Linked DNA regions of Homo sapiens: region 1 is linked to region 2. Evidence: fine-mapped expression QTL. Tissue or cell type: caudate. Region 2 holds a variant in brackets; the other region holds the start of a gene. All regions are shown on one strand. Distances are between the middles of the regions.

Evidence for each region. PIP is the estimated chance that this variant, and not a neighbour inherited with it, causes the effect.
Region 1: ATP1A4 starts here. The variant in region 2 is fine-mapped to the expression of ATP1A4 in caudate (GTEx, PIP above 0.99). The same link has a PIP of 0.9 or more in neural progenitor cells, prefrontal cortex and skeletal muscle.

Annotation. Positions count from the first base shown.
Region 1 is chr1:160,150,349-160,153,030 of GRCh38, reverse strand. It overlaps ATP1A4 (ATPase Na+/K+ transporting subunit alpha 4), which reads right to left and starts at 1,428. Exons shown (of 22, transcript NM_144699.4): 1 at 844-1,428. The coding sequence starts at 990.
Region 2 is chr1:160,127,414-160,130,095 of GRCh38, reverse strand. It overlaps ATP1A2 (ATPase Na+/K+ transporting subunit alpha 2), which reads right to left. Exons shown (of 23, transcript NM_000702.4): 8 at 2,276-2,544; 9 at 1,246-1,444; 10 at 1,007-1,116; 11 at 696-830. Among named protein-coding and RNA genes, the nearest start is that of ATP1A2, 13 kb to the right of the region's middle. The variant C/T (reference allele first, on the strand shown) is at 1,343.

The DNA of each region.
Region 1 (2,682 bases), 23 kb before region 2:
TTGAGATGGAGTCACTCTGTTGCCCAGGCTGGTGTACAGTGGTGCGATTTCGACTCACTGCAACCTCTGCCTCCCAACAGGTGTTTCTCCTGCCTCAGCCTCCCAAGCAGCTGGGATTACAGGGGCCCATCACCAGGACCAGCTAATTTTTGTATTTTTAGAGGCGGGGTTTCACCATGTTGGCCAGGCTTGTCTCAAACTCCTGACCTCAGGTGATCTGCCTGCCTCAGCCTCCCAAAGTGCTGGGATTACAGGTGTGAGCCACCACGCCCGGCCTAGCTCCCCACTATTTTACAGGCCTTGGTCAAAGTGAAACATTTCACGGGGGTTCGGGCCAGAGAAACAGCCTGCCTAACCACCTGACCACAGGGCAGACGAAGGCCCAATTAAAGACAAAGACCCCACTAAAGAAACATCCCTATCACATCCTGCTGGGCAAAGGTCCAGGGAATACCATGATTATATTCTGTGGAAACAAGGGCCAAAAATCACCTCATCATGAGAACATCTTATCGATATCCTGCCAGGCAGCAGGCCATACAGCCCAGACTCCTCCCATCCATCCCTATAAGTACCCAGCCTGTAAGTGGCAGTGGACTGTGGAATTAAGCTGATCCCCCACTTCCACAGGTGTCTGCAATATACCTGTGCTTGCTGTTGAGCTGCCCTGTCTCTCTGTGTGTATCTTTTTTTTTTTTTTTAACCCTCTCCTTCCCTCCAAAGCCTAACAGAGAAGAGATGTGGCTCTGGCCTGTGTGTTTCATTCTCAAGGTAAGATGTTAAAGATAGGTGGAGGAGTGTTTTCAGAGGGCAGCTGTCAGCGCCCACTTTGGGTGGCCTCACCATGACCACTTCCTTCTTCAGTTCCTCCATATTGCGCTTCTGTTTTTCCCTCTTCACCATTTTTTTCTTGATAAGCCCTTTTTTAGGTCTTCGTCTTGGACTCTGGTCATGGGGAGCCACTGTCCCTTTCTTCCCCCAAAGCCCCATAGCTATCCCCAGAAAGAGCTGCCCGAGCTCAACTGTGGGAAGAAAGCTGAGAGAGTGAGGCAAGGGGAAGGGAAGAGGGCGCGCGGGCAAGGGGGCCACGAGAAGAGAGTGGTGGGGAGAGAATGAGGGAGCAGAAAGAAAGAGGCAGGGAGGGAGGTGTTGGGTGGTGAAGGTGAGAGAGAGGAAGGGAAGTGAGAGAGGAGAGACTGAGCGGTCCTCCAGCCGTCCGCTGGGAAGAGGAAGAGTCAGGAGTGAGGGAAGAGGGAGGAGAGAAGCCTAGGGTGGAAGGATAAAAAGGTAGAGGTGAGGGAATGCAGTGAGGGCAGGAAACAAGAGGTGAAGCGTAACCAGGTGCCTCAGTGATGAAGATGCCGCAAGGCCCACAGGAAGGTGGGAAATGCAGTGAGAGTGAGGAGGCGGAGTGAGCTTCAAGGATCTGGGAACCCCCCAGTCCCAGGCCCTGTGGTTGCTGGGGCAATGACCCAGGTCTGGCATCACAAAGGCCTCCTGAAAGTTCTAACCAAGAATCCAGAAGTCTTGCCTTGGCGATGGTCCAGGTCTGCTGTCGCAAAGGCCTCATGAAGGTTTTAACCAAGAACCTAGAAGTCTCAGTCTTTGGGTTTGAGGACGATTGGAGCAGGCCCTGCTACAGAAAGAGTTTCAGTCTGAGGGCAGAACTAGAACAAAGTTCTTGTGTGGTCCTGCAGACTTTGGAGGCTTAGAGGTATGCCAAATAGATGACTCAAAAATAAAGCGGGTATTCGGCCGGGCGCGGTGGCTCATGCCTGTAATCCCAGCACTTTGGGAGGCTGAGATCGAGACCTTCGTGGCCAGTATGGTGAAACCCCATCTCTACTAAAAATACAAAATTTAGCCAGGTGTGGTGGTGGGCACCTGTAATCCCAGCTGCTCGGGAGGCTGAGGCAGGAGAAACATCTGAATCCAGAAGGCAGAGGTTGCAGTGAATTGAGATTGCATCACTGCACTCCAGCCTCGGTGACAGAGTGACTCCATCTCAGACAAACAAACAAACAAACAAACAAACAAACAAACAAACAAAAAACCATAGCAGGGAGCTTACAAAATGGTGCAGTTGCAGTTTGGACTAATATTCTCCCGTCTGTTTTTGAGACTCCATCTCAAAAAAAAAAAAAAAGCAGGTACTCTGTGTGTGTTTTTTAGCAAGGCACACTTTTCCACTAACATTGGGTTTGATCTTTTAATTTTAGGAGATCAGCTAGCAGAATAGATCAGATCTTGGGCTCTGGAACCAGTCCTGGATTTCAATCCCAACTCCTCCACTTGTCAGCTGTGTGGCTTTGAGCAAGTTACCTAACCTCTGTACCTCTCTTTTCTTATTTTTAAAAGAGGATACCTTCTACCTTAAGTGAGGTGCTCTACAAAAAGCACTATGTGACATATATAGTATGTGCTCAATAGGTAGCTTGAATTCAGTAGTAGTTTTATTTGTGGATTAATATGCAGCTCTTCTCAGTGAGGGTAAAAATATGCTTTTCCATGTGATAGCGTTGCATTTTCTCATTTTAAAATGATGTACTTACCTCTTCCATTGACCTTCTCTGGTGTCTCAGTAAGTGCTTTGACTATATTAACTGTATATATGTTTTGCATGTCCATAGGATTCTACCTCCTTCCAAGAATAATCTGAAGCATCTATACTTTTCTGTCAAC
Region 2 (2,682 bases):
AGACAACAGGTAGTTACAGAGAGGGCCATACTTGTCTTGGTAGCGCGGCATAGAGCAGCAGCTGGTAAGGAAACCACCTTAGAAAAGTAGCCCCAACCCATCAAAGATTGTCAACAAAGAGAATCTCCTTGTGCAGGGGGGTGTTTAGACCTCACAGTTCCAACACTTGTAACCTGAGAGCCACCTCCGTAGGACAGTCTTTCATTCAACAAATATTTATTGAGGTCAGGTTAAGACAGGCACTGTGCTAGGGGCTGAACGGCTCCCTCCTCAGCATCCCCACCACCACCTGGCCTCAGGGGGCTTTACCTCTATGGATAATAAGGAATGCTGAGATTGCATTCTTGGCATTTAACAGGTGCCTAAAGGCTAAGGGGCACCATAAAGGAATTACAGAATTATGGTTTCACTGACTGGGGTAGAAGAGTTGGAAGGCTAGGCCAGAGGATGCGGAGCTATGGGAAGAAGAGTTGAGAGAGTGACAGATTGTAGTAAGGGATGGAGTAAGGTTTGGGAGCTGGGGCTAGTTGCAATCAGACATGCAGTCATATGAGCTGTCCTGGGGGACTTAGCAGGGGGAGGGAACATGACCCTCAGACACCCCCACTCCTGCTAGTGATGATTCCCCTTGGCTTTGTCCACCCTCACCCATTTATATCCCTCTCTCTTCCTCTGTCCTGGCAACCCAAGCAGACCTGGTACTTGTTGGTAGAGTTGAAAGGAATCTCTGCCACCTTGGGGTTTCTGTCTCTCATTTTCCTCACTGAGCCACAGGAGAGCTCAATGCACTTGAGCAGAGCTGACTCAGAGGCATCACCAGCTGTGTCCCGCTGCCAGAAGAGACAAGAATTCAGTGTCAGCATGGGAGGGAAGGGAGTGGAGGATCAGGTGAAGGCGGCACTGAAACCCCCAAGGCAGCCACATCATGTGAGAAGGAAAGCTGGGGCCAGCAAGAGGCTTTGGAGACACCCCCAAAACATACCTGGTGTGTGTCCTGACCCCCTACCTTAGACACGGAGATGTTCTCCTGTCCTGCCTTGAAGACGGCGCGGTTGCAGAGACCAGCAATTCGAGACAGGGCCGTCCACGTAGGGGATCGTTTGTCAAAAGTGGCCCCTGGGAGGAAATGAGGGGGAACCAGGAGCGTGGCTCCCTTTAGAGCCTTTATCTCAACCACTCACCCCACCACGCCACTGCCCTCAGCCTCCTCTAATCCTATCCACCCCCTCTGGAGCACCCAATCACCAGACTGATCTTCGGTGGTGTCAGCCTCATGGATTTGGTTGTCGAACCACATGTGGGCGACGGTCATGCGGTTCTGGGTGAGGGTGCCCGTCTTGTC[C/T]GAGCAGATGGTGGACGTGGAGCCCAGCGTCTCCACCGCCTCCAGGTTCTTCACCAGGCAGTTCTTCCGTGCCATGCGCTTGGCTGTCAGGGTCAGGCACACCTGGTAGAGAAAGAGGAGAATAAAAAAGGTTAAGGCTGAAGCCGGAGATGGCCATAACCTTACCCTAGACCGTGGCTCCATTCCTCCTCCCCTGATTCTACTCCACTAACTTGAATGGGTGGGACTTAGCTGTAAATAATGAATGTTCAATTTTAGATGTGTTGAGATCATGAGTATCTGTTAAGATGAAATGCCCATTAGGGGGTTTAAGACGTTTGACTAGAGCTCCAGAGAGGGCCAGAGCAGAGCTGAGCATAGGGATGTCTGAGTCATCAACACAGAAGGGACACTGCAAACTGGGAGGAGATTGGCTCTTGCTCAGGGTGTAGGAAGAACAGACAGCTGAGGCCTGAGAATCAGTGTAGGGGGAGCAGGAAGGGACAGAGGAGAGGCGAACCAGGATAGTGACACATCACAGCAATCGACAAAAGAGAGAATGGTAGGAGGGTGGACAGCAGTATCTGTTTCAGCAGCAGAGTTAGGGAGGAGAGCTGAGAAAAGGTCCCTGGATTTGCTAGTTAGTGACTGGTGACCTTTGAGACAGCCTCTACAGGAGACTTGGACGGAATGAGACCCAGACTGCTGGCAGATCGTGAGAAAAGGCAGCCGTGACAAGCTCCAAAAGAGAAACTGAGTGCCTAAGAATAGCCCCACCTGAGATTTCTCAACTCATACCCTAAGCCATGTATTAAGTGATCTCTGAGTATCGCATCCAATAAGTGACTCTAGGGGGAAAAAGTAGTGAGAAGCTACAAGCAACTGTGCCTCTATCACTCTGAGGAAAGAGTAGTGAGACCCTCCCCTGGTGGCACCTCAGCCTGACCCACTCACAGTGACAGTGGCCAGAAGCCCCTCAGGCACGTTGGCCACTATGATGCCGATGAGGAAGATGACTGCCTCCAGCCAGCTGTAGCCCAGGATGAGGGAGAGCACGAAGAAGGAGACCCCCAGGAATACAGCGACCCCTGTGATCAGCTGGATGAAGTGTTCAATCTCCATTGCTATGGGTGTCCGCCCAACCTCCAGGCCTGAGGCGAGAGTAGCTATGCGGCCCATCACCGTCCGGTCTCCTGTGGCAATCACAATGCCCCTGGCAGTGCCTGCAACATGGTGGGGCATCAGGTTGGGTGCCTTGTGGCTCCCAGGGACTGCAGTCCCATCCTATTTCCTGAGCAAGGAAAATCATCACAGGATAGGTGAGCCAAAGCCGCAGATCTGGAGGCCACATTCAGTAGGTT